Homo sapiens: one gene and its partners. The protein of the gene in region 4 interacts with the protein of the main gene of each other region in a biochemical or structural test. Each region holds a gene or a part of one and is shown on either strand. Other genes may lie near its edges. The genes, in order: MAP3K7, NFE2L2, GRAP2 and USP8.

What was found.
Region 1: the proteins of USP8 (region 4) and MAP3K7 form a complex in vitro, tested with the Homo sapiens proteins (one study listed by BioGRID).
Region 2: the proteins of USP8 (region 4) and NFE2L2 form a complex in vitro, tested with the Homo sapiens proteins (one study listed by BioGRID).
Region 3: the proteins of USP8 (region 4) and GRAP2 form a complex in vitro, tested with the Homo sapiens proteins (one study listed by BioGRID).

What each region holds. Positions count from the first base shown.
Region 1 is NC_000006.12:90,513,634-90,521,107, forward strand, and holds part of MAP3K7 (mitogen-activated protein kinase kinase kinase 7), read right to left. Parts: intron 5,687-7,474; coding exon 5,625-5,686; intron 4,930-5,624; coding exon 4,814-4,929; intron 3,049-4,813; coding exon 2,868-3,048; 3' UTR 1-2,867. UniProt on the Homo sapiens protein: Serine/threonine kinase which acts as an essential component of the MAP kinase signal transduction pathway. Plays an important role in the cascades of cellular responses evoked by changes in the environment.
Region 2 is NC_000002.12:177,261,529-177,268,908, reverse strand, and holds the start of NFE2L2 (nuclear factor erythroid 2-related factor 2), read left to right. Parts: upstream 1-4,181; 5' UTR 4,182-4,332; coding exon 4,333-4,377; intron 4,378-4,777; exon of another isoform or gene 4,778-5,506; intron 5,507-7,380.
Region 3 is NC_000022.11:39,903,991-39,911,464, forward strand, and holds part of GRAP2 (GRB2-related adapter protein 2), read left to right. Parts: intron 1-7,474. UniProt on the Homo sapiens protein: Interacts with SLP-76 to regulate NF-AT activation. Binds to tyrosine-phosphorylated shc.
Region 4 is NC_000015.10:50,427,072-50,434,545, reverse strand, and holds part of USP8 (ubiquitin carboxyl-terminal hydrolase 8), read right to left. Parts: intron 1-7,474. UniProt on the Homo sapiens protein: Hydrolase that can remove conjugated ubiquitin from proteins and therefore plays an important regulatory role at the level of protein turnover by preventing degradation. Converts both 'Lys-48' an 'Lys-63'-linked ubiquitin chains.

The DNA of each region.
Region 1 (7,474 bases), on a different chromosome or scaffold from region 4:
TTCAGTTACAAATATGCACAAGAATTTCTGCATTACATCATTTGACATAAAATGTTCTGAATGACAGAAGTAGAAGTAGAACTTACTACCATTTGAAGACAGGAGTTGAGCGCTGAAAACCACACACATTTATAGAAAGAAACCAAAGTTTCACAGGGAAGACCTGTGATCTCTGGCTACAGGAGCTGAAATTAGGAACATGAAAGAAACTTGAAGAGAGAAGACATTCAATACTCTAAAATACTTCAGCAAAAATAGTCAAACATCCGTAAACAACTTGTAACAAATCTTTATATGTTGTGTTGCTATGCGGTAAATATTCTTAACTGATTATTATTCAACTCAAAAAAGTGATTTTTATTGCTCACGAATACTTCCCTCTAGATTAGATAAAAGCTTGCTTTCTTTTCCTGGAGTCAAGAGTAAAATGTAATTAATGTAATTAGGGCTTACTCAGTGATTGTTTTTGAATTTCTTAGACTGGGGCATTCCAGCCACTTGCTTGGCTGTTTGCAATTTTCACCCAAAAAACGGTCAAAATAAATTGTAAAACCAGAACGAATAAGTTTGGCTCCTTGTTAACATTTTTATTTGCAGGATGGATGAGGAAACTGATGAAACTGGCTGTGGATTTTAATTATCCCTGGTATCTTTTTCTCCCATCTCCAAGGATCATCAGGACTTAAAAGCATGAAATTGACAACACAACTACTTAAAAACAGAGTAAGGCTGAACTGTACTCAATGTCCAGGGCAACTACAGTACTGAAAATCTCAAGGAACTTACTGTAAACAAACAAGCAACTGTTCAACAGCCTCTTGCATTTGGTACCATGACTAAAATCTACTATTTTCTTCCATTTACCTATCTGGATATTTTTATGAAATGACTACATGTAAAAACCATAATAAAATTTCCCTTAAATGTGTTATAATACAGCAAAACACATCAATGACTATAAATAAAATCTGAAATCTCGAATGCTAAATCCTAATGGAAACATCAAGCCTTAGCATTCACGCTTGGATATCTCGTGCTGAGATAAAAGGCCTCTTTAAAGTGACTAGGTCCCTTTCAGTGGAGTGACAGATGTACATACAAGCAACAATGCTATGGAGGAGTCATGCTTTATCCTAGTCTACAGTTATTTTCTCTGCCAATTTTATTTTACTATTACTATGCTGAATCCAATATCTGTTTCAGCTAGGTAATCAAATTTGGGAACAATTAACACTCCTTTTATTTAAATTAAATGACAGAAGACATTTATTTCCAGGAAGCTTTCTAAAATAGCTTTTGAAGAAGCTAAAAATAACAGTTTAGTATTCACCTGTATTGCTTGTATACACAAGGAATTCATTACAAAACTCAGTGGTAGGAGGAAAAAATAATGGAAGAAAAAGTTACCTGCTTTAGCATTTTAAAGAATAGTTTTGATAACTTCTTAGATCTTGCTTATCTGAAATAGAGCAAAAACTACAATACAGTCATGATAGAATTCTAATAATCACAGCAATTAATGCTTTCATTTTGAACTTTTTCTTCATAAAACATTAATGCTATAAAAATCAGACTGATGACATCCTTATTTAAAAGACATCTTGTACTGGTATCAAAATGTGACTTATTTTAACACCAACTGAAAAAATATAGAGTTTGTATAGTCTATTATTTCAGTGTCATTTTATTATTAAAGTTATTCTGAAGGTTTTGGTAGCAAAATTACTGTTAACAATATAAATACTCTGTAAGTGTTGAAATTCTCTTGAAAGTGTTGAAAGGCGGCAGGCATTCTAGAACGGGATTGTAAGGAAAATCAAATATTCCAATATCCAGGATAATTAGGACACTTGTTGAATTTATATTTGCTTCTTTAACTTCCTTCTGATTTGCCTGGTTTATTTCTCATTTGGTATCATAAAAAGAAATCTAAGTCCAAGCTTTTTTTAGCTGGAGTAATTACTTCCATTTTCCATTATTTTTCTTCATTTTTTTTTTTTCAAATACATGAGAAAACAATCCAAGAATCACTGCAGGAAGAAATGATCATTTAAGCTCAATCATGTTCTTTTGCCTTTTAATTTCATTTAAGAGATTAATATTAGAGTCATAAAAGCTTTACAGTTTCAACACACATACACACAATCACAGAATTAAAAATCTTTACTCCTTAAAAAAAAATGAGTTCCATTTTGTTCAATGTATCACAATCAAATTTTAGTCTAACAAAATCCGGTAAAACTGCTTTCATTAAATAGAGCAGCTGCCACTTACCTTTACATATTTTACGGATGGAACTGAGTTCAGTACTGATCCAAGGATGCTGGCATCAAAGCCCTTACACGGAACTATCCCTAAAGGTTCCGTATTTCCGTAATATACCACCAATCACTCTAAATTTATAATACCCTGTCTTTAACTTGGTATATACCATCTTTTGGGAAAAAAATTATTAATATTTTGAGATGAGATACAAGAATAAAGTCATTCTTGAGGTTCCACCTCTAATATGAAAAAATGGACGCTGTTTGCACATAGCAGCTAGTTTGATACCTCCTGTTCTGTTAGGCTAGCCTTCACACAATGAGCATGCATATACAGCCACAGTTCACTGCATCTGTTTTGAAGTTGCAAAGTGCTGCTCATTCAAGTCACAGATGCTACCATGTTATGCAATGAAACAGTAAAATTGTATGTCCACCATGAGAAAAGGAAAATAAACAATGAAAAAAATGCAGCAAATATAGGCAGTTGGCATTCAGAACACGCCAAAAAGCTAACACTCATGAATCGTCATTATAAGGTTTTCCTTTCCTTAAAAAAAAAGTCTTTCTTTGCATATTTCAAAATGTAACGGTCCCAGAGAATCATGAAGTGCCTTGTCGTTTCTGCTGCTGACTTCTGATGACCTCTAGTTGTTTTTTGCATTGCTGGTAGTAAGTAGAAAGGCTTTTGTTTTCATCTAAAAGCTTTTTATGTTCCTGTACCAGGCGAGATGTATTTTGCTGGTCCTTTTCATCCTGGTCCAGTTCTGCAACTAGTTCTTGCCTACAAACAAATACCACATAATATTACACATGATGGAAAAATTCATACCTTAGTAGCTGATGATGGAAGCTCAATTAATGAGAATTTTTATTCTTGGTTTATCATTTTGCATCTTAGGTACACTAATCAAATATAATTATGGGCTGGGATGGAACTCTCATCTACTTCTAGTGTAATCATACAAATAACATAATCCTTTTATTAAGTAACTGTACTTGGATAATTAGCGAAGCAGATAAAATGGTAAAATAAAAGTTTCAGAAAATTTCATTTTCTATCCTCTTTTTGTGTAGGAAGGATGAAAAAAGGCTGGGAAGGGTTCTATGTGGCTATGGGAAAATATCATGAAGTTTTTATCCTTCACATTCTACTTTTATACTGATTCACATTCTGAAGTCACAATCCTACTTAACTATAGCAGAGAGTGGTAAGCTAATAGCAAATTTGCAATCTAATTAAAATAAATGCTATCCAATTTAAAGCTTTTTCCCATTTTAAAGCAGTGAGAAAAATGACAAAGTACCACTTCTTTTAAAACACTTACATTTGCAAGCACTTTCAGGAAAGACCCTCATTCTTTTATAGTCTGATAAACTTATTTAAGTCCCTCTTATTTGGGAACTATTAAGTATTCCCGAAAAAGATGCATCTTTAGGCATTTCCTAAAGTGAGGTTACTGGATATAAATGAATAATTAATAAAAAGTCCTCAAGCAAAATAACTAACTAATACTACTTCTGAAAGTATTTAAAATTGATTAAAACTGTCATAGTTTTCACAGCCAACACCCTAATCCACCATTTGTTTTTTCCAGCATAGAATACTTCTTTCAAATGATTAAAGTATGGCAAAAGTATAGGTTAAATAAGTGAAATAAGAAATCAAGCTTTTTCAACATAAAAGTGCCAGCAGTTTGATAATTACTTCTACGATTTCCAAACTGTAGTATTTAATTTCCTATTTAGGCTTACCTTTCAAATACCAGGTTGGTTCCATTTAAATCACTGTATCAATAAATTATGATAAAACAATTTTTTCTCTCTTTTTTTTGAAGTACATACAGAAAGCTTTTCGCAAATTCAGAAAAAAACAACTTTCATTTATTTAGATTAAAATTAATGAAGGGAATCCTATTATCATACATATATAAAGTTGCCAAAATTTTTTCCTTATCACTTCATTTTAGTTACCACCAACAATTCAGTTACCTAAGTATAAAATTTCATGGAGGTCATGCTTAAGAAAACTGAAGATACATACATATTTAAGAACTGTGAATGCAGTAGTAAGGAAATTAGGCTGTGTTTCTTTAAAAAGGGAGGAAGGCAGTTTCTATAACTCCTCAGAAAAACACTCAGTTATGAAATACAGTCTTTTAATAAGTAATCCAATTCTAAACATACACCTGGAAAAAATGTATCTACAAAAATGTTTCTAAGATAAGGCACAACTGAATGTTAATAAATCAAATTATTTTATCTATTTACAAGAAAACAATAAATCTTTATAATAATAAGTCTAAACAGCTCTGAGAACATAAAACAACAAGTATAAAGCACCAGTTTATTTTCCATAGCACTAATATGATAGTCAAAAGGATTGAGTTTTGCATAAAAAATTTTTAGTAAAAGGGTGCTTAAAGCTTAAACAAGTTGAAAGTATACTTAATGACTAATTCTAAAAACTACGTTTTCATTGCACCTTATCATATTTTAAACTCAAAATACTAATGTATTTTTATTTTTATTCATAAAAAATAACTTACTTTCTCTGTAATAACAATGCAATTTCTGTTTGAACTTTCATATATTCTTGTGCCATTTTACAATGCTGTTCAAACACTGCCATAGATTCTTTGGAGTTTGGGCACGGTGCTAGAGGCTGAAAATAATCAGGAATGTTAAAACATAATTAAATCAAATTTCAATATCTAGCTAAGATGAGAGTCAAGACAGAGACTGTGATATATTTTTATAGCACTAAAGCAATGATCTTTTAAAAATAAGTGTTAAACCATGCCCTAGAAAATCTCAGTGTCCTTTTGTCAGAATTAACTCAGCATTTAAATCTATTCTTGCTGTTTTAACAGTCTGTTACAGAGAATCATGATTGTTGGAGTTGTAGTCTCTGGTATGACATTTCAGGCTGCAAACAGGCTCAAACTAAATGATGTTTATAGCCCTCATACTCATGAGGGGGCACTGAAGTATATTATTTACATTTTCAGTCACTATGAACATGAGAATGTATCACAAATGTATTAAATAGAAATAAGCTTATGAGTTTTGTTTTAATGCACTAAAATTAAAGAGTGAAAATGTAATGCTTAGCAGTACTAAAGAAAGATACTGGAGGATTTTAAGATGACTGAAAAGATAAGAATATGATTCTGCCAATTTAAAGTTTGATTAACTTAACCAAAAGAATTATTTTGATTTGATTCTAAAAAGTTTAAGGAGGCCAACTAAAAGGATAAATTAAGGAGTGACTATACAATGACAGGTAGCAACACAATTGTCAACTTAAACTCTCTAAGAAGAAAAAAGTCAACTTTCAATAAGAAAGTACTCCTTTACCTGTAGTTGGTGATCCAGTGTAAGATAAGCCATTGGGATGGAGTTATCTGATCCATTGGTATCTGGAATTCAAGCATGTATTTTATTGATTTTCTGTCACAAATAATTATAAACGAACAGCAAGAAAGCATGAATGAAATGCTTTTTTTCCCTAAAGTAAATAATATGTAAATTAAAAGTTACAGCTATTGGTAATTGAAGAGTCTATTTCTGAATTCTAAAGGTTAAAAAAAGGATATTCAATTATCAGATATTAGAATGCAATTATATTCTCATACCTATAATTTAAGTTGGCTATAAACTGAATAGAACACAATATATTAGAGCTTCTAAGCTCTTAATTAAAAACAAAAACAGTGATGAGACCTTTATATTTTAAATTCAGTCTTAATTGACCCTATCTAATCAAACTCCCCATCTCTTTTCTTTATCATGCTAAGTTTATTTTATAGAAGGCTATATCAACTCCGCTAATATCAATGTTCCTTAACAGGGAAAGGGAGAAAGCAGAGACACATTCTCTTCCAGTGGATCATTTTCAATTTATATAGATTATAATGTGACCTCCACCACTCATCCTGCCCTTCCCAGTAAGAATCACTGCAGAAAACGAGATGTTGGTGATGAGAGTATATTACAAATACGAACAGTAAGGAACCAAAATGAGGTTGAAACCTGTGGCTCAATGTCATGCCGAAAACAGTTAAGTTGATTAATTCAAACAATCAGTCAATTTTATAAAATTATTTGAATAGAATGCTTTTGTTTATATTTCAAAAGAGGTAAAACTGCCATACAACTTGACTGAGATGCGTGGGACAGTCTCTTCTCAACATTTATGGTTATGTAGAACAGTTCCAGAAGTAAACAGAGTAACTCTGAAGCAATACAGACTTTTCTACTTCAGAAGTAGTTGCTTTCCCACTGTTAGTAGACAAAAAAAGAGCTAAATGAGTGAGCTCTTCAGCCTTTTTCTGACGAATAACTCCTTGAAGGAGTGGTGTGGATAAAGGCAAGTCAGGAAGACAGCAGACGCACTGTATGCAATCCAAAAAAACTCAAGAAGGGTTGCTGGCTCAGTAATCTTCTAATTTATTGTCAACTGATAATCCAGGTGTTTTTTTTTCTTTTTGCTTTTGTTTTTGTTTTTTTAAAGCCACTGAGAACGTGCTCTCAAGAAACTCCAAAAGCTAATTAGCGAAATCAGACCAAATGAGCCAGTGCATGTGAGGAACACCATGCAAATCCTGGCGTATATTAAGCACTCAATACATGACGGTAGTTATCATTATTATTCATACTAAATGGAGAATTAGAAAGAACAATTTAAAATAGTATAGTATGAATTCCATATTGAAAAAGTAATGTTTATTAAATATTGCAGGGCAATACAGAAAAACAGTAGAGACTTAAGGCACTTACCCTTACCCTTAAGGCTCATATACAGTACTAACATAAATGTGTGTTTTTCTGAAGTGGCTAAACAAGAAATATACTTAATTTGTTATTTCTCTGACCAACTCTTCTCCCACCCCAACAGTGGTTTCAAACTACGCTCCCACATAAACACTGCTTTCCACAAAACTAAAACTGATTAAAAATGACTGATTTCCTCCTGATTTACTAGAAAAATTTAAGTGTCTTGAAAAAGTTTCAATTTAAGATTTCCATTCCTATTATTCTTTCTTAAATCACTGATACATTATATATCTCATTATATCAGCACCCTGTATCTGATATGTATTTTAGAATTAAGCTTAATACATCAGTGTTGCGTGGTATTCTGGGAGCAGAAAAAAAGTCCAAGGATTGTGTTATTCAAATAATTAAAGCCCTTGTATGGTGGGGAA
Region 2 (7,380 bases), on a different chromosome or scaffold from region 4:
TCACTGCAACCTCCGCCTCCCGGATTCAAGCAATTCTCCTGCCTCAGCCTCCTGAGTAGCTAGCATTACAGGCATGCACCACCATGCCAAGCTAATTTTGTATTTTTAGTAGAGACAGGGTTTCTCCATGTTGGTCAGGCTGATCTCAAACTCCCGACCTCAGGTGATCCGCCCACCTTGGCCTCCCTGGGATTATAGGTGTGAGCCACCGCGCCTGGCCTATACTGGAGTTTAGTTTATCCACTGGGCAGGTTGCTCAAGTTCAAACTCCCTAAGCAGATATTCAGCGAGTATCTTACATAACTGGCACAAATGAGGTCATATCACGGTCAGAACCTCTGTATGCATTTATCCCTCCATCTACTTCATTGATAAAATGTCTGTGTTCGTGAAGTGTATTTTGATAAGGAGACTATCTCTCCATCGTCTAATAAAATGAAACTTATGCATGGTGTGATGAGGTTTTTTACTTTGTATGTAGCAACAAAGATATGTTATGGGAAAGACAGCTTCCTCATTCCCAGGGAAGTCATTTTCTTCTGAGAGTCTGAGTTTTATTAAATCACCAAGTATCATCTCCCTGTTTGTGCTCCCAATGTTGGTTAACAAACAAAGAGCAGCCAGGGGAAACCCTGCCTTTGATAGTCACCATACATACAGTATGCTGTTTTGGTTATCAATTGCTATGAAACAAACCACCCCCAAATTTAATAGCTGAAAGTGATTTATTATAATTTCTCACAGTTCTTGGTGTTGACTTAGCTTAGCCAGGGAGTCTTCTGCCGGTCTTGCTTACAGTCTCTTGTATGTGACTGCAGTCATATAGCAGCTGGAGCTGGAGTTCTTTGGGGGCTTGAATAGGTGGGCTCGAAGGTCCAAGATGGTTTCTTCATTCACATGTCTGGTGTGTTGGTTCACATAGTCTCTCTCTCTCCATTTAGAGTTTCATCTTCCATGACTTTTCCCATGGCCTCTCTTTCCATCAAGGTAGTCAGACCTCTTAGGATGATGGCTGACTTCCAAGAGTATAAAATTAAAAGCTGTCAGGGCTTTTTCAAGCTTAGGTTAAAACCTGGCATAATGTCACTTCTGGCCTCTTTCCATACCTTAAAGCAAGTTGCAGGGCCAGCCATGCTTGTTTCAATATGAGGGGACTAGACAAATGCCTCAATATCAGGAGAGGTGGTTTACTGGGTGCCATCTTTGGAAGCTTTCTATACTTTACACTGGACAAAGTAGAATTTCAACTACAATTCTAAAAGATTATGAATATTTTCTGGCTCAAACATGGAGAACAATTGAGAGGAAGTGACAGAGAGAGGAAGAAGCCTCAAAGTGATGGAGGATTTTGAAACAATCGGTACTTTCTTGCACCTTGCAACTTGGCAGATTGGAGCACAAAGGAGGTGGAACTAAGGGGTCAATGCATCACCATTATCCAGACTTCTTATACCCAGAAGACTTACTTGATGATACTTTTTTTTTAGACAGAGTCTCACTCTGTCGCCAGGCTGGAGTGCAGTGGCGTGATCTCGGCTCACTGCAACCTCCGCCTCCTGGGTTCAAGCAATTCTCCTGCCTCAGCCTCCCTGAGTAGCTGGGACTACAGGCGCATGCCACCACAACCAGCTAATTTTTGTATTTTTTAGTAGAGACAGGGTTTCACCACGTTGGCCAGGATGGTTTTGATCTCTTGACCTCGTGATCCGCCAGCCTCGGCCTCCCAAAGTGCTGGGATTATAGGCGTTAGCCAGAGCACCTGGCCAATGATGCTTATTTTTTATGAGCAATCTGGAGCAAGGTATCACAATTGACACATCTCAAGCATGTAGGGAAGGCCGTCTTCCCAAAGACAGCAAATGATTCAGGAATCAATGAAAAGGTACAAGAGTCAATAGAACATAAAACCAATTGGAGGGTATTTTTCCCAAATAGTAGCGAGGAGAGCCTGGCAGCAAAAAAGGATCCCATGGCAGCAAGACAGGAGAGAAAAACCAGCACCTCCTCTTTCTTGTTCTTTCTTGCTCCTCCAGAGCTTCTCAACATGCATTATCTGTGCCCTCCTAACACAATAGGCAGGTTTGGAGGGCAAAGCAAGGGCTCAGGCTCTCATATGAAGACAATCACATTCCAGAGTCTGCCAAGATTGGGCACCTCCTTGACGTGGGTGGTCTTGAGAATGGGGTTCCCTTTATTTGGCTAAACCAAATGCCAAACAGCTTTTCCTTAGTGTTTGTTTTTCTTAAACAAGTTCAAACTCTTATCATATTGCTCCCCTCCCTTTGAAAATATGTACTCTGCAGATGCCTGAAATAACACACTCTCAGCAAATTGCAGCATTGGAAAAGTGAAGGTTATTTCATTCAGTCTAAACTCAATGGAAATTTTGTGGCTTAACAAGGAAATACCAAATACTTTATAAACTCCTTTAGAGCAGTAACCATGTCATATGACTCTGGTATCTCCTACCTACTAGGCTCATTGTCTACCTTCTCTGATGTCGTAATTTTAATAAGTAACTTGAATTGTTAACAATTTACTCTTGTCTTTTTCTTGGACTCAGAAATGTTATTTTATTATTATGTCTCTGCATCTTTCATGTGAGGTCCTTTGCAAACAGTTTTCTCCTAACTTGTTTTCATTGTGCAGATCATGTTGCAGGGTTTTCACATAACAGCTGAAAGGAATTAATAGGAGTTAAAGAAGCTTGCTTCAATTACAAGTAATTAATTTAGGCTTCACTTATCTCAAGGAATATCTGAATATACAAATTTACACATAAATCCTGGGAGTGTCAAATTATGCAACCTAGAGAAAGTAAGCTCTGCAGCTTTTTGGGCGTTGATTGCTATAGTCAGGGGTGTGTGTGTGGTTTTTGAATGAAATAGCAAAACCACTGCCAGTATTATCTACTTCACCTGGTTTTGAATAATTCCAGGAAGCTAGAAACTGAAAACCAGTCTTGTATAGAGTTAGAAAGATTGTAAATGCAGAAGAGGAAGAAAAAAACAAAACTAAACCATTTATCTATCCTCTTTGAACCCTTATAAGAGTTCACAATATTCCTCGTTTCAAATACTTGAAGTCTTCTCTGGGCAATGATTAATTTTTAAATAATTGTTTTTAATGTAAGACATAAAACATACGCACTGCAGATTTAAAGCATACTTGGAAGTAACAAGGAGAAACATAAAAATCGTTGATTCCACAGCATTTAATATATTGGTAACCTTCAATTTTTTTCTAGGCACGTTTTTATAAAATGAGCCAATACTATACAAACGTTTTTGTAACTTTTTTTAATTTGTACTATTTTGTGAGTACGTGAAAAAGAAATTTGTAAAGAGTAAACGATTACAGCATGTTGTGGTATTACACACTGTTGAAGGGCGCCATCTGTGGCGTGGTGGCTGCGCTTTGGTGGGAAGAGGTTCTCTTGGGGTTCCCGTTTTTCTCCCAGCTCTGGGTGGGCAATACTGACCACTCTCCGACCTAAAGGGGCTTCTCCGTTTGCCTTTGACGACCTGAGCTTAGGAGAATGGAGACACGTGGGAGTTCAGAGGAGGGCGTTCAGGGTGACTGCGAACACGAGCTGCCGGAGCTGTCCACATCTCCCCTAGGCAGGGCCCACTGGCCCCAGCCCGGGAAGGGAGCAAGGGCGGGAGGGCAGTTGGCAGTGGCACGGTCTGGGTCCAAATCTTTAGCCCCCCCCACCCCGGCTGGCGCCATTCTCGGGCGGTAAAGTGAGATAAAAGCAGGGCAAGGTTCTGCAACTCCAAATCAGGGAGGCGCAGCTCCTACACCAACGCCTTTCCGGGGCTCCGGGTGTGTTTGTTCCAACTGTTTAAACTGTTTCAAAGCGTCCGAACTCCAGCGACCTTCGCAAACAACTCTTTATCTCGCGGGCGAGAGCGCTGCCCTTATTTGCGGGGGAGGGCAAACTGAACGCCGGCACCGGGGAGCTAACGGAGACCTCCTCTAGGTCCCCCGCCTGCTGGGACCCCAGCTGGCAGTCCCTTCCCGCCCCCGGACCGCGAGCTTCTTGCGTCAGCCCCGGCGCGGGTGGGGGATTTTCGGAAGCTCAGCCCGCGCGGCCGGCGGGGGAAGGAAGGGCCCGGACTCTTGCCCCGCCCTTGTGGGGCGGGAGGCGGAGCGGGGCAGGGGCCCGCCGGCGTGTAGCCGATTACCGAGTGCCGGGGAGCCCGGAGGAGCCGCCGACGCAGCCGCCACCGCCGCCGCCGCCGCCACCAGAGCCGCCCTGTCCGCGCCGCGCCTCGGCAGCCGGAACAGGGCCGCCGTCGGGGAGCCCCAACACACGGTCCACAGCTCATCATGATGGACTTGGAGCTGCCGCCGCCGGGACTCCCGTCCCAGCAGGTGCTGCCTCGGCCCTCTGGGCCCTGCGGTGGTGCCGGGACGGGGGCGGGGGAGCTAGGGAACCGCGGCCCGGGAGGGACAGCCGCAACCGGCTTCCCCCACGTCTGGCCAGAGCCAGGACCGCGGCGCTGGGTAGAGCCGCCGCGCTTGCGCCGGGGCAGGGCGGGGAGGGGCAGCGGGGACGCGGCCGGGTGATCCGACCGACCACGAGCCCGAGGGCGAACGGGTGGGAAGTTGCGGGAAGGTCTGGGGACTGAGCCCGCTCGCGTGGGCCTTGGGGGAGAATCCAGCCGCGTCCCCGGGCCCGAGAGCTGGGACTCCGGAGCCCCTAAGTTTGAGCGGCCCGGTGGGCGGCGGGGCAAGAGGGGGCGGACGCTGGCCGTCTGAGCCGGCGCGGCCCGGCCCTTCCGGGGCTGCGCGGCTCCCCCGCCTCGGTGCCGGCAAAAATGTGCCTAGTCACGGGGCCGCTCTCGGGGGAACTGAGGTCGCCTTCGGGCTGGGACCCGGAGCCCCTTCGCCGCGCCCCAAGACCTCCTTGAGTGCGGGCTGCGACGCGCTCACCCCGCTGGGCCGTCTGTGGGCGCGGCTTTGCGAAGTCATCCATCTCTCGGATCACTCTCTGGCAGCCTTGAGCTCTCTTGAAAGCCCAGCCCCGGGACGAGGGAGGAGCGCCTTAAGTGCCCAGCGGGCTCAGAAGCCCCGACGTGTGGCGGCTGAGCCGGGCCCCGCGCACTTTCTCGGCCGGGGAGGGGTTCGGGCTCGGGCACCCGGAGTTGGCCCCTCGTAACGCCGCGGGAAAGTGCGGGCGAGGGCAGTGGACTCTGAGGCCGGAGTCGGCGGCACCCGGGGCTTCTAGTTCGGACGCGGTGCCCCCTGGTGGCGCTCACCGCGCGCGTGGCCTTGGCTTCCGTGACAGCGCTCGGTTGGCCGTCACAGCAGCCCTCGGTTGGCCCTTTCCTGCTTTATAGCGTGCAAACCTCGCCGCGCCAGGGCCAAGGGACAGGTTGGAGCTGTTGATCTGTTGCGCAATTGCTATTTTCCCCAGAGCGGCTTTGTCTTTGGATTTAGCGTTTCAGAATTGCAATTCCAAAATGTGTAAGACGGGATATTCTCTTCTGTGCTGTCAAGGGTAAGAGTTGCGAGTGTAGATTAGAATTTCTGTTGCTTTTAGTCTGTTAGTAATTTTTTGCTTTCAGCTATTATTTCTCCCCTGAGTACTTTATATATGTTTCCTTTTCAGTTGAGAATTTGCCTCAATTTCTTAACATGTTCCCCCTCTTCTGCAGGGGCAGAGAGTGGAACGCTTGCGTTTCAAAACACTTGCTAATTTCTGTGAATTGTTATAAAAGTGAAAAGAAGTTTCTGCTCATCCTTTGTAGAAACTTTAAAAGTAGATATTTATATTTCTAACTTCTTTTGTAAATGAATTTTAGGAAAAAAATTGGAATTCAAGGAAATGTGTACTTGATGTACAGTAAATACGTTTATGCTGTTAAATGTAAAGTTTTCGGTTAATTCCAAAGATCTATTGTAAAGTTTTAAGTTATGGACAATGTATTAATTGTGCTTTTTTCCCCCTTTAAAGTTGTTTGTCTTGAACTTTTCCCCAGTCTTCATTGGGATTGTATTCTTCTGGTTCCAACTAGTGAAGAATTAAATTGTACCTTCCGATTTATTTAATAGCTGCTGTTCAAGAGTTATCTATAGGAATGCTTGTTTGACTGAAGGATATATGATAAAAATGAACTTTAGTTTTTCTGATTTCCGGAATTGTCTACAGCCCTCTATTATTTTTGAATTTTTCTTTCTTTGCTGTGTAATATAACATTCCTTATACAAAAATGCGTGAAACATATGTACCGCATTAAGTGTGTATTTTCCAATTACGTTTGATAAAAATAACTGCTTTTCTACCTTTGTAATCAGACATCGATTTGCATATTTGAAAACAGAAAAAGAACAAGAAAATTTAGAATTGATTTTGTTTATGATTCATATTAGATTGTTGTCATCCATAAAGATTTGAACAGAGTCAAACATTTTCTTGACCTTTTGTCAAAAAAAACTCTCCAGGTGTGAAGTGGTAGTAGGATATAGTTTTTCACCTTCTGTGCAGAGGATGTGTTGATAAACAGGGCAGTAAGGAGAGCCTTAGATTCAGTATCTCCATTAGGTGGAAGGAACCATCCATTACTCTTTTCAAGGGTGTCTTGGAGAGATAAAGCACTTTCCTAGATGAGGGATGAAGTTGATATTGAAATAGACCGATGAGATTATTTTTAAGTCAAACAAAAGAAAAATAGGACAGGCCTCTCATCTCCTGAATGAATGTTAAGCAAAGAACAACTTGACTTTTTAGATATGTGAAAAATCTCTTGAGAGGTTGTGGAAGCAGCATGTAGGAGGATAAATGCATAACTCACATCAGTCTTTTACGCATTAAAAATAACTTGGGCCATTTTGAAATCTTTCTTTCTTGCCCTGGGTTCTTATAAGCAATGTTGGGGGGAAAACTGACTCTGTCTTTAGGATTACCAGGAAAAGTTGAAAGCCAAATGCATCATTTTTCTTAATATTTGTTTTTATTGAGGATAAATCATGTTTAACAAAGCTGCATGAAAAAAAGGAACCCAACAAGTACATTTTTTTTTCTGGGAATTTCCTCTGTCCTGACTGAAGACATTTAAAGGGGGTTTTGTGTCAATATTTCCTCCTTAACTGTTCCTCAAGCCTGGGTTAACTTTTCAGTATGCAGGAAGAATTTGGCACTAAGATAATAATAGATAAGTTACTGGGCACGTCCCTGGGTGCCAGACATAATTGCTTCACATGCATAATTTTACAGTAACCTCACGGGAAATATTATTATCCCTGGTTTCCAGGTTGGGAAAACCAGGCATAATAGTTAGATCAGGCATTAGGTTAGGAAAGGTTAGGAGAGAGGCATAGAGAAAGGCCAGGACCTGCTAAGGTGACCATACTATTGAGTGGCCAAGGTAGCAT
Region 3 (7,474 bases), on a different chromosome or scaffold from region 4:
TTATAAACAAAAATTTTAGAGAATTAAAAGAAACTATCACGAAGTGCATGATGATAAAAGTCTTATATACTCTCCAAAGAAAATGTTAAGACATACCTTAAGGAGATAGTGAAGAACAGCCGGGCACAGTGGCTCACACCTGTAATCCCAGCACTTGGGCGGCCAAAGCAGGCAGATCATCTGAGGTCAGGAGTTGGAGACAAGCCTGGCCAACATGTTGAAACCCTGTCTCTACCAAAATACAAAAATTAGCCGGGCATGATGGCAGGCGCCTGTAATCCCAGCTACTTGGGAGACTGAGGCACGAGAATTGCTTGAACCCGGGAGGCAGATGTTTCAGCGAGCTGAGATCGTGCCACTGCACTCCAGCCTGGTCGACAGAGCAAGATCCTGTCTCAAAAAGAGGAAAAAAGAAAAGAAAAGAAAAGATAGTGAGAAAATAACTGAACATAAAACATAAAGAAAAGTTGAAATATTAGTACTCACTACCTAGGTTCAACAATTGCTAACTCTTTGCCGTATTTGCTCCATCTATACCTATTTCTTTCTGAATTACTTGTAAGTTGCAGATAAAATAATACTTCACTCCTAAATAATTCAGTACTCATCTAAGAATAAAGGCATTCCTCTATCTAACCACAATTCCATCATTAGGCCTAAGAGGATAAACAGTAAGTCCTTAATATCATCTGATAGCTAGTGCAGATTTAACCTTCCCCATTTGTCCCCCAAATGTCTTCTATACCATTTTTTAAAAAAAGAATCTAATTTTTAAAAATAAGAACATATTTTGCAGTTGGGTCTCATGCTTCTTTCTTCAACATTGGATGTTTTTAAAGATTACGCCAGTTCTCTTGTACCAGGTCCCACTTTCTGAATTCGTTGTTGCCTCATGGTTAATTTGTTCCTCTACCCACTTTATTTCTCATAAGCTCCAAGTTAGGACTAAAAGCATGATTTGATTTTGATTGAACGTTTTTTGCAAGGTGCCACTGGGTGCTCCATATTGCATCTTATCAGGAGGTACAGAATGCCAGGTTGTTCCACTGTGCATGATGCCAAGTTTGATCAGGGCTTGAGGTAGTGATCTTGCTCAGAGGATCTCTTGTTGTACAGGCACTTTTTCACCCTTTGCAATTAGCGAGTACTCTCAGGGGGTATCTCAAAGTGTATCTCATAAACACTTTGGCATGGTGGCAATATCCTATTTCCCAACAAACTCTCACCCGGTGACTTTAGGTAATAATCTTTGCCTAAATTGATTATTTCATTGGAGTTCATATATATTTTTAATACGCTTTGAAGATGGACTCGACATGCAAATTCATCATTATCAGCAGCAATAGTGGCTGGAAATATTTATTGAGTGCATAAGTTCAGGTAATAATAATAATAGTAGGTAATGTTTATTGAGTGCTTGCTGTGGAGCCAAGACAGCCTCGGTGTGAGCCCAGTCTTTCACTTACTAAGCGAATGAACTGGGACGAGTTATTCTTTTTGTGCTTCAGTTTCTTAAGCTATAAAATGGGATTACTAATGGTGCCTATCTCGTGGGATTGTTCTGAAGAGTAAACGATTTATACATTTAAGGTTCCTAAAACAGTGCCTGTTATTATTGTTATTTGCCAAGCATTGTTCTAATACTTTGTAGGTACTAACTCGTCTACTTCTTCTAATGGTGCAATGAAGAAAGTGCTAATAATACCCTTTTTTCACAATGAGGAAACTGAGGTACGGAGAGGTCTAGTACGTTGCACAAGGTCACTTAACTAGTACCTGGTGGAGCCAGGATTTGAACCCAGGCTGTCTGGTTCCTGAGCACTCTCTCTGATGATGGGCACATGCAGTGAGGAGTGATACAAGTGGAGCTGAGTGGAAGTAGCCCTCACACACACTCAGACTTGAAGTTATTGAAAATCCGGGAGGTTGCCACCCAAACACATTTAAGGTTTAATTCATCTGAATAAGAACAGCATTCCACTAAGCCCAGATAAGTACTCTTATTACATTTACATAGCTTAAGGCTCTGTACAAGAAACCTTGAACATAAAATACTTGGAACAGAAAAGAGTAGGAGAACTATGAAGTAATGGGGGGAAAAAATCCCTGAAAGGAACAATACAAGCGGGGAGTTATGAGACCTGGGACCTCAGAGCCTCGGGGTGGAAGATGATATTTTGATATAATCAGGAGGGAGAAATTTCCTCTCATTTTTCACATTTCTGTACTATATAAGATTTTACCATAAAACGCAAGAGTATAAGCCATTGTCAGATTTATAAAAGGCCATGGTGGATTTCCTTAAGAGACGATGGATGACTGTTGTTAGTAGGTAAATTCCCTGGTTGGTTATCTCATACACTCAGATATTCCATAAGTCAGCCTGTGGCTTCTGAAACTGTATTGAGAAAAAGCTGTATAAACTAGGTGTTGGTCCATGCTCCTTCATTAGCATTACAAAAGGGTTCGACTGCTGAGTTGAATCTTATCCACTCCTTCAGTGGCCATTACAGAAAGCTCTCAAGTGTAATTTTCTAAAGAGAACTAAAAATAAATAAGAAAAAAAAAATCCAGCATTAATAATGGTTCTTTTTGCATTTCCAACACAGTCATTGCCAAATTGGTTCTGCCTTTTTATGTTTTTTAATGAAAAGCAGCCTAATTGATCAATTGGTCATGAATAATACTTCTTCGTTTGTTTTTCTCCACACCCCCCAGCCTTCTAGAACCACGGGCTTAATGTGTCGGCCTACAAATGGTTCATGATTTGTGTTTTTTGTCTAGTGCTTTATGGGAAAATATTAGAAACAAACTGCTGAGAACTCAGTAGGAACTCAGTAAATAATAAGTAGATAGTTCTCTTGTTAAATATGATTTTAAAGAAACTCTTTCTAAATAACTAGGAAATATTACAAGGGAAGTACAAAGTGGGGTGGAAAGCCTGGCTGACTTGTAATTTGAAATTTCTCTTCATCATTTTATAGGTCACACAGTTTAACCCTTTATAAAACAAAATGTAAAGTCTGATAGCTGAAAAGGCTCTCCTCCGCTAAATAGATTTGTTTGAAAATATAGATCATTAAATCGGTAAGAATAACAGGAGAATCTCAACCAAACATTGAGACAACTAAGAAAATTGTCTAAATCTAATACCTTATATCAGTACTTTAAGTTGACCATAAATACGCTGATATCCATAGCACATAGGTTCTTACTGGCAGTGGTGGGGTGGGTGGGGGAAGGGGAGTGTCACAGACACATTCAAGATGTCAACGAAAACTATGAAAACTCTCCCCAATGGGGAAAAAAAACCAACGATGCCTAGCACTTATCCTACGCAACTTTGTACAGAATTTCCGTGGGAAATTCTGGTGTCCATCCATCATAAATCACCTGGTGTCCACCCATATATCCTGAATAGGAAAAATTGTCTTTCTCTAGAGTTATTGTACACTGATCCTGATGGAGCTTTAAAAAGAGTTGTCGTACAGGCTCATTGACTTTGGGAGGACAAGGTGGGAGGATTGCTTGAGCGCAGGAGATTGAGACCAGCCTGGGCAACATGGTGAGGCCCCATCTCTACAAGATATTCTTTTAAAAAATTAGCCAGGCCCAGTGGCCCGCACCTGTAGTCCAAGTTACTCCAGAGGCTGAGGCAGGAGGATCCCTTGAGCCCAAGAGATCAAGGCTGCAGTAAGCCGTGTTCACACCGCTACACTCCAGCCTGGGCAACAGAGTGAGATCCTGTCTCAAAAAATAAATAAGTAAATAAAAAGAGTTGCCATTATCTTGTTTGATCTGGCTATGATCTTTGAGGTAGACAGACCACAGATTTTACCTCTCATTCTGCAGAGTGGGAAAAGCAAGGCTTGGAGAGTTTCCGGGACTTGCTCAAGGTAATTTGCTAATGTCTGCCGGGACGTAGCACCAAGCCTGTCACGCTGTAGGCTGGGCCCCTTCCACAACACTGGTCCAAACACAGGATTCTGGAGATGCAGGAGCCCTCGATGGGCTTCTGGAAAGCTGAATTCTGGCTCTACCAGAGCTACCCACGTGATCTTAAACAAGTCACCTAACTTCCCTGAGCTTCAGTTTCTTCCTTAGTCAAGTGAGAGGTTAGACTGTGTGTTCTCTGAAGCCCTTTGATTTTCTGCAGAAAACCACCTAATCCCACTGGGTCTGGGAACAGAGGGAAATGACCTTTTCTGCCATAGATGGCAAGACCCTTCACCCTTCCCTGTAGGGCATAAGAGCTGGCATCCAATTCTTAACGGATTCCCTTGCAATGTCCAAATCCCATTAGAAACTACAAACATCTCAATAGTGCCTTTGTGGGCTGCTTGGGTGTCATGCCGCTGGCTGCCTCACTTGCTGCAGGGCTGACTGTCCACATCAATTATACTCCAACCCTGTGCTCTGCAATGGGCAGACATCCCATGAGATTTTATTACCCCTCTTGGGTAGTTCAGGGAGTCATATGGAAGTAAATAATGCTGATGGGCTTATTTTGGGCTGATAGATCCTTATCCTTCTAAAGAGGTTATGCCTTTCAAAGGGTACAAAACCTTCTCCTTGATTTTTTATTACGAACAGTTATATCCTTTAATGTCCCAGAATTGTTCTTGGAAGTTGGAGACTCACAAGAGGGCCTGCAGCTGTGAATGCAGAAGTCCTGAGACTAGGGGAGGACATCACCACTCTCCCTTGGCCTTTGGAGTCATCCAAGCTAAGTGCTAATATTTGTGATTAACAGGTGTTGATAGGAAATTGGGCCCCTGTGTCTCAGTCTTTTTGTGCTTCAAATTTTCTAAGTGAACTTCAGGCTGGCAAGTGGAGTTAGATCAACTTGTTGCAGACAGTATCATCTGCTCGGTACCGTGTCAGGTCACTGGACTGTGGGAGGTTATACTGACCAGTGATGAGAGTGACAGAGCATGAGCTTGGCTCCCGTATCCTGTGTTCTGTGCTCAGCCTCACAGATGACTCACTGTGCCTCATCGACTCCTCTGTCCTCGAGTGAAATTATGCCATTCTTTAACCCACTATACAAGAGACTTTTGAAGATTCATGTGTGGCTACCCCCAACAATATCTCATTTGTACAATGCAGAACATGGTGCTTTCTTGTGTAAACAAACTCATTTTGTGGAATTTTTATTTTCTAGATCAATATTTTTAAATAGACTACTAATTCATTTTATAAACCGGGTACTATAAGATTTTATGAGTTGACACTTGGTACCCTGTAAGTATCCAAATAATCAAAGAAGGAGAAAGTGTGAAGTCAAGGAATCCCCTAGCTGAAAAGAAATTCCCAATACCTGGAACAAAAAAGATGGAGCTTTTAGAGAGCAGACTTTTTCTCCAGCAAAGATCCACAACTTCCATTTTTAAATGTAAGACGTAAGGGAGATTTATGATACAGCCTACTTTGTCAGATCATATTATTTCATAAAGTGAAGGGTCAATTAGGTGTTATTATTATCAAGAAAGCATGCTGTAATGCTTCGTCTTGTAGATGCTGTAAAAATTACCTGTCTGATTACTTTAATTCATCTTTTGGCTACTGTCTGCAGAAATTCACTCAGTCCCTAGCTCACAGGTATGCAGACGTACTGAGAACACTTTGGGAAATAAAAGCAAAAAAAACATTGGGTCCTTTCCCCTAAGGAATGAACAGTGTATTTGGGAAACTAGGAAAAACAAACAAACAAAAAAATGGTACCACAATGCAAAACTGATGAGGAGATTAAAAAACAGCTCAAGATGGAGATTTTTAGAAAGAACTTCTTGAAGGAGGTGCATCTGTAGGCTGAGAGAGATGGTTTAGCAAGCAGGCATCAATGCATCCACAAAGCTTTACACTTCAAGGAAATCATAGGAGAAACAGGGTCTTCTTTGCTGAAGATCTGTTTATTTTGCAAACAACAAAGAGTCAGAAGAGCCATGTGAAGTTTCCATGGGGAATCCAGAAACTAAACTTCTGCCACTGGAAATTACCTCAAGATCTTTTCCCAGATAGCCTGCTCTTCCCCTGCTTCCAATCATGTCCCTCAAAGTCTTCTTTTTCAAGCATAAATATCCTTAGTTCTTGTAACCACTCCTCCTATGAGGCAGTTTTGCGTGCTGCCATTATTTTAAGCACCCGCCTCTGATTGGACTCTAGCTTAGGGCCTCCCCTAAGTCACGGGACTCAGAACGGAGCAACGCTCTCCAGGAGTGATCTGAGGATGCAGAACACCATGGGGTAGTTGCCTCCCTTGATCTGTAGCCTATACTTCTATTAATATGGCCCATGATTGCATGAGCCCTTTTGGCACCCATGTCACACTGCTGACTCATATCGAAATTGTGGTCAACTAAAACCCATGAGTTCCCATGCACTACTACTAAGCCAGATCTTTCTTTCTTTTTCTTTTCTTTTTTTCTTTTTTTTTGAGACCAAGTCTCGCTCTGTCGCCCAGGCTGGAGTGCAGTGGCGCAATCTCGGCTCACTGCAACCTCTGCCTCGTGAGTTCAAGTGATTCTCCTGCCTCAGCCTCCCGAGTAGCTGGGATTACAGGCGCCCGCCACCACGCCCGGCTAATTTTTGTATTTTTAGTAGAGACGGGGTTTCACCATGTTGGTCAGGCTGGTCTTGAACTCCTGACATTGTGATCCGCCTGCCTCGGCCTCGCAAAGTGCTGGGATTACAGGCATGAGCCACCATGCCCAGCCAGATCTTTCTTATTCTGTACTTACACTGTTGATTTAAAAAAAAAAAAAAACCCTAGGACAGAGGTTTAAATGTAAAGACATTTATTTCTATTTCACTCGATCATTTTGATAACAACTTGTCCAAATCTTTCAGAGCTAGGGTATTAGCTTCCCCTCCCTGCAGGTGAGTACTTACCTGCTGGTGCAGCTAATCTCATGATGGATCTCTGGCCTCTAAAGGGCCAGAACTTCATTGTCTCTTTCCTATCCATAAATTCTCTGCAACCGTGGATGAATCTGCATCCTTAGACAAACTAGTGGGCCTCAATCTTCCTAAGTAAGATAGGAATAAGTGTGAATGGCCATTTCCTCCTTGCGGTGAGGATATGCGACAATGAGTTCGATGTCTGCAAAACCCTAAGGAAATGTCACTCAGAGGCAGCATTAGATGAGGAGAGAAAAAGTTTATTTCAGGCTCTCAGCAGCTTTCAGAAGACTTGATTATCCTGATCACTACGTGTGAAAGTTAATGACTTCATTTTTGCAGTTATTTTAAAAATATAACTGGTTTATCTGATTTTTGGTTGTAGTAACATCACGTGATGGTCAGTATCATTTTACACATTATTTGTAATGTGAGCAAGTGCCATAAAGCATATCTGCAAGACTCATTTAAAATGACTCTCTTCCCTCCATCACCTCCCCCAGCCCCATCCTCAACTCTACCCTCTTCTGTTTGTAATACGGGACTACAAAGATCTTATAGTTTAGGTTTCCGT
Region 4 (7,474 bases):
TAACGTGCTTCTAACAACAAAAAATAAAAATTCTTAAGACGTGTAAACCTGACAAAGATAAAGAACTTCAGCCTTAGTCAAACAGCAGTGCTCCAAAAGTGAAATCCAAAAGTGTTGAAAATGAGTTAACAAAGAGAAAATGCAGCCGGGCGTGGTGGCTCAGGCCTGTAATCCTAGCACTTCGGGAGGCTGAGGCAGGTGGACTGCTTGAGGTCGGGAGTTTGAGACCAGCCTGGCCAACATGGTGAAACCTCATCTCTACTAAAAATACAAAAATTAGCCGGACGTGGTGGCGCACACCTGTAATCCCAGCTATTCAGGAGGCTGAGGCAGAAAAATCGCTTGAACCCAGGAGGTGAAGATTGCAGTGAGCGGAGTCTGGGCGACAGAGCAAGACTCTGTCTTTTAAAACAAAACAAAACAAAACAAAACAAAACAAAAAACCTTATGCTTCAAGAAGGATTGCAAGTGAAAAAAAAATAACTAAGTATATGCAAGAAAAATTAACATGCTTCTAACAACAAAAAATAAAAATTCTTAAGATGTGTAAACCTGACAAAGAACTTCAGCCTTAGTCAAACAGCAGTGCTCCAAAAGTGAAACCCAAAAGTGTTGAAAATGAGTTAACAAAGAGAAAATGCAGCCGTGCACAGTGGCTCACGCCTGTAATCCCAACACTTTGGGAGGCCAAGGCGGGCGGATCACGAGGTCAGGAGATCAAGACCATCCTGGCTAACACGGTGAAACCCCGTCTCTACTAAAAAGACAAAAAATTAGCCGGGCACGGTGGCGGGCACCTGTAGTCCCAGCTACTCAGGAGGCTGAGGCAGGAGAATGGCACGAACCTGGGAGGTGGAGCTTGCAGTGAGCTGAGATCGCGCCACTGCACTGCAGCCTGGGCAACAGAGACTCCATCTCAAAAAAAAATAAATAAATAAAGAGAAAATGTTCTTTCTCTGACATCCTTCTGCTCCTTTCTAAGACAAAGAGTAGGGATTTGATGACTGGAACCACAAAGTGAAGACTAAAAGGTAAAAAGTGAAAAATGAGGTTTGCAGTCATTCAAACTGGTCCTGATTTTAAGCAGGGATTCACACCAGCCACTCCTAAGGTCTTTGGCAATATTGAAAGGAAAGCAAAAGTTGTCTTTGTTGGTCACCCACCATCTCTCTCTATTTCTGCCCTTAGGCAGCAACAATACTCAACATAAGTATCTTCTCGCTGTCTTAAATCTCATAATCCACTCTACACTCGTTCTGTATAAGGTGCCACAAACAACTAAGTATTGATTAAATAACTTTTTTTTTTTTTGGAGACGGAGTCTCACTCTGTCGCCCAAGCTGGAGTGCAGTGGCATGAACTTGGCTCACTGCAACCTCCACTTCCCAGATTCAAGCAGCCTCAGCCTCCCAAGTAACTGAGATTACAGGCGCCCCGCCACCATGCCCCACTAATTTTTGTATTTTAGTAGAGACAGGGTTTCTCCATGTTGGCCAGGCTGGTCTCGAACTCCTGACCTCAGGTGATCCGCCCGCCTCGGCCTCCCAAAGTGGTGGGATTACAGGCGTGAGCCATCGTGCCCGGCCAATGAAATAACATTTTAAAGTAATCCTCAAGTATTAAGAAGGCTCAACCCTCTCAAGATTTAATCACTGCTAAAATGTATGGTATTTTCTGAGCAACTACTATGTCTCTAGCACTGTGCTAAATGCTTGAGGGCAGTGTTTTTAAAATCCATTAGAAGGTCATGATCAGCATTAAAAAAATAGCAAACATCAGACTATGTCACACATAGTAAGGTTAGGTACTGCTTCGTAAAATTGTTTCAGTTATGTACATGTGTATATGATATAACACTGGATGAAAATGTAAAATGTATTTCTTAATACAGGTGACAATTTTAAAAAAAGTATGAAAGTCTCACACTACAGCAATGTAACTCCAAGTATGGTCCAATGACCAGTGCTGATTGGGGAACTGTTTGTTATCAGTTTGTGATAAAATAAGAAGTTTGTGACAGAATGTAGATCAATTAAGCACACTGACCTTTTTAAAGTAGCAGCAAGACTTTCTCCATGCAAAAAGCAGTGCACTGACTGGGCGTGGTGCCTCACAGCTGTAATCCCAACACTCTGGGAGACTGAGGTGGGAGGACTGCTTGAGCCCAGGAGTTCAAGAACAGATATTTATGTTGAGTATTGTTGTTGCCTAAAGGGCAGAGATAGGGAGAAATGGTAGGTAGCCAACAAAGTGGGCAACAAAGTAAAGACAAAAAATTTTACAAAAAATTTAAAAATTAGCTGGGCGTAGTGGTGCACATCTGAGGTCTCAGCTACAAGAAGAAACAAACTTAAGTTCCATCTCTTCCATCCTTTATGGTCCCAGTTCTTGGAATTTGTTTCTTCATGTGAATCCTACAATGCTTGTGATCTATATCATTCCTTAAATACAGTAATGGGATCAACAGACAATTACTATAAGGCTTTAAAATCCTCATACACACGCAGTGCTCATGATGATGTGATGAGAGAGAGAACCTGGCCTTGAGGACAGAATTTAGCTAAGAACAGGGTAAGAAAGGAGGACATCTGGCTGGGCATGGTGGCTGACACCTGTAATCCCAGCACTTTGGGAGGCTGAGGCAGGCAGATCACCTGAGGTCAGAAGTTCAAGACCAGCCTGACCAATATGGAGAAACCCCGTCTCTACTAAAAATACCAAATTAGCTGGGCATGGTGGTGGACGCCTGTAATTCCACCTACTCAGGAGGCTGAGGCAGGAGAATCTCTTGAACCCAGGGGGCAGAGGTTGCAGTGAGCCAAGATCGCACCACTGCACTCCAGCCTGGGCAACAAGAGTGAAACTCCATCTCGGAAAAAATAGTAATAATAAGGAATATTACAGAAGTTATTGGGAAATAATCAATCGGATAGAGGGAAAATGTTGACATGTCTTTGGATCCCTGGCACCTATCTCAATAGTCCTCACATAGTCACCACTTTAATAAATGTTTCTCCCTGTCAGCTGAATTTAACTAAAAGGAAAAAAAAATGTTGACTAACAAGAATAACTAAATTATATTATGTAGGAGATGGAGTCACATTATGGAAGACTTTGGAAGCCATCCAGAATTCTTTATATTTGATTCAGCAGGCAATAAAAGCCAGTTCCTGATGGGAAAAATATTATCTCAAGATGGTCAAATTAGGGATATGTAAGTAAGATTGAAAGGAGATGAGAACAAGGGAATGATACTATGGAAAAGAGTAACTACAAGGTCACTGCAGAAAAGAACACAAAATGGTAGAAACATGCTTTGGTAACTGGTTGATCGAAACAGTATTTTCTCTTGCTTACACACACACACACACACACACACAGAGGCACACACACTGTACCCTGCAAAATATGAAGAGCAGTAGTGCTATTAACAAAAAAAGTAATACTGCAGTTTAAAACTGATCAGTTTACAGCAGCGTTTCTCAACCTTGCCATCACTCACATTTTGGACCAGATAAACATTTGTTGTGAGAGGCTGCTCTGTGCAATGTGCACTGCAGGATGTTTAGCAGCATCCCTAACCTCTACTAGACGCCAGTTTACTATCATCCTTCCCTTCCAGTTGTAACAACCAAAACTGTCTACAGTCATTGCCGAATGTGTCCTGGAAGGCAAAATTACCCCCAACAAGAACCACTGGTTTACAGCAAAGTAGGTAATTCGATGTGGAAAATGTTGAGTGTATGCCAAAGGAACATCTTAAGATGTAAATATTAACTAGAAATCAGTTATATGTGAGAGCAGACAGATATTAAATCTGTTTATCAACTAATAAGGCATCAATGTTGACTTTGATAATCCCTATTGTTTTGGAAGATAATTAAGTATTGACACCAAAATTATGTTATCTAGGATTTGGTGAACTGCTGGGCAACACAGTGAGACCTTATCACTACAAAAAAAAAATAAAAAAATAAAAAATTAGCAGGGCATGGTGGCATGCGCCTGTGGTCCCAGCTTCTCGGAAGGCTGAGGCCTTCCTTGAGCCTGGGAGGTTGAGCTTGCAATGAACCATGATTACACCATTGCACTCCAGCCTGAGCAATAGAGGGAGACCCTGTCTAATTGGGGGAGTCTTAGAATGCCATGAGAAAAAAAGAAAAGAAAAGAATAAACTAGCCCTAGTTCTTTATTTTTTTGAGATGACGTCTCACTCTGCTGTCCAGGCTGGAGAGCAGTGGCGCAATCTCGGCTCACCAAAACCTCCACCTCCCCGGTTCAAGCGATTCTCTTGCCTCAGCCTCCCAAGGAGCTGAACTAGCCCTAGTTCTAAAGAGTGACTGTCTAAACTGGCTTCAATTAGGTAAACAATAGATACCTACTATACACAAGGTGCAGTGTTGTGATACAGGGGATACTAAAAAAATACAACTCTTAATAAAGTTTCTGCCTCTTAAAATGAAAGTTAAGTACATAACGGTAACAAAGTAAAGTGTGGCTTAATGCTGTGATATAGGCACTTAGCAAACCAGGCCAATGTCTGTTTGTTTTATTAAGGACCATTCCCAGAAACTAACAAAAGGGTAACTGTTTTCCAGAATAGATGTCTATCTACATTTATAACTTTAATCCATTTCTTTTGTCTTCTACCTCATTAATTTTTTAACAGATGCAAAATCATTAAGTAGGGAGCCAGATCGTACTTAACATGCACCAAAAACATAGTTCTCAATCCCAGCTGTATGTTAGAATCAGTTACCTAGAGAACTTTAAAAAAATATTGATGCTCAGATCCCACTCCTAAACAATTAAATCAGAATCTCTATGGATGAGACATACACACAGGTATTTATTTTCTTATTTATATATTTAAAAAAATACAGAGTCTCACTATGTTGTCCAGGATAGTCTCAAACTCTTGGGCTCAAGTGATCCTCCTGCCTAGGTCTCCCAAAGTGCTGGGATTACAGGCATGAGCCAACCTCGCCTTGCCCACATAGGTATTTTTAAAAAGCTTCCCAAATGAATTCTAACACCAGTCAAGACTGGGAACCATCAATATAAGAATGAATATAAACATGCTGCTAGGAGCAACAAAATAATATGAAGGCAACAATTTGTTTCCAGCTGAAATCAGCATCTTAAATCATTCAACCTACCAAAATTTTAAAAAATCATTTTCATTTTTAAAACTCTGTAATTGAGAAATTAAAATAACACCTCCAAAAAAAAAAAAAAAAACACCTCCAGGATGCTTATGCCCATAACTCTTGTTCTGAAATTGGTATTATAATGTGTAATTATTTCATTTTACTCTATTAAAAAGACATGTGGGTTTACACCATTATTGGTATGTTTCAGAATTTAGTGTAGTAGTCCCCCCTTATCCATGGTTTCGCTTTCCATGGTTTCAGCTACTTGCAGTCAACCACAGTCCAAGAATATTAAATAAAAAATTCCAGAAATAAACAATTCATAAGTTTTAAATTGTGCACCACCTCACTTCGCCCAGTCTGTGACATGAATCATCCCTTTGTCCAGTGTATCCACACTGTAGATGCTACCTGCCTGTTAATCACTAAGTGGCCGTCTCAGTTACCAGACTGACTATAGCAGTATTACAGTGCTTGTGTTCAAGTAACCCTCATTTTACTTAATCATGGCTTCAAAGTGTAAAAGCAGAGATTCACGTATGTCAAAAAGAAGTTGTAAACTGCTTCCTTTAAGCAAAAAGGTGAAAGTTCTCAACCTAATAAGAAAAAAAACCAAAAACCTCATGCTGAGGTTGCTAAGATCTATGGTAAGATCTTTTATCTGCAAAATTATGAAGGAAAAAGAAATTTGTGCTAGTTTTGCTGTCACACCTCAAGTTGCACAAGTTATGGCCACAGGGCATAACTTTTATTACACTATATTGTTGTAATTATTCTATTTTATTATTAGTTATTGTTGTTAATCTCTTGTTACTAATTTATAAGTTAAACTTTATCATAAAAATGTATATATAGGGAAAACATAGTATATATAGGGTTCAGTACTATCTGTGGTTTCAGGCATTCATTGGAGGTCTTGAAACATATCCCCTGCAGATAAGAGGAAGACTGCTGCATTATTAAAAACTAAATTGTAGGCCCGGCGTGGTAGCTAACGCCTGTAATCCCAGCACTTTGGGAGGCCGAGGCAGGTGGATTGCCTGAGCTCAGGAGTTCGTGACCAGCCTGGGCAACACAGTGAAACCCCATCTCTACTAAAACACAAAAAATTAGCTGGGCGTGGCGGCATATGCCTGTGATCCCAGCTACTTGGGAGGCTGAGGCAGGAGAATTGCTTGAACCCATCAGACGGAGGGTGCAGTGAGCCGAGATCATGCCACTGCATCCAGCCTAGGTGACAGAGCAAGACTCCCTCTCAAAAACAAACAAACAAAAAACTAAATTGTAATGTGTTAGTCAAAAGAGACAAGGCTTAGTTAACCCTTATTCACTATACATGAGAACTGTTTTACTTGAATTAGTATGGTATTAGTCAGGTGTGCTGGCGTGTGCCTGCAGTCCTAGCTACTTGGGAGGCTGAGGCAGGAGGATCACTTGAGCCCAGGAAGCAGAGGTTACAGTGAGCCAAGGTCATGCCACTGCACTCCAGCCTGGGTGACAGAGCAAGACCTTGTCTCAGTTTAAAAAAAAAAAGGGCCAGGTATGGTGGCTCACGGCTATAATCCCAGCACTTTGGGAGGCTGAGGCGGGCAGATCACCTGAGGTCAGGAGTTCAAGACCAGCCTGGCCAACATGGCAAAACCCCATCTCTACTAAAATACAAAAATTAGCCGGGCATGGTGGCAGGTGCCTATAGTCCCAGCTACTCGGGAGGCTGAAGCAGAATTGCTTAAACCCAGGAGGCGGACATTTCAGTGAGCCGAGAACTCACCACTGCACTCCAGCCTAGAAGACAGAGCAAGACTCCGTCTCAAAAAAAAAAAAAAAAAAAAAATTAGTACGGCTATAAATGTAGAATTCCAAATAAGTTTAATATAATATTTCATCATTCAGTACTAATAAATTTAATATTATGGAACTGTTGCAGGCCTTACTTTCCATTTATTAATCATATGACTTTGAACAAATTCCGTAAATCACTCCCAATACCACCACCACTCTTCAGTTTACTTTCATCTGCAAAATGAAATAGGAACTATTTGTCTGCTTCTATAGGGTGACCATAGGTATCAAGTGAAAAAATATACAAAAACATGCTTTGAAAACTGTAATATGCCATTACAACATAAAGTATTACGGTTAAAGAAATTGGAAATGGGTCAGGCGCGGTGGCTCACGCCTGTAATTCCAGCACTTTCGGAGGTTGAGGCAGGTGGATCACAGGTCAAGAGATCAAGATCATCCTGGCCAACATGGTGAAACCCCATCTCTACTAAAAATACAAAAATTAGCTGGGCTTGGTGACATGCTACTCGGGAGGC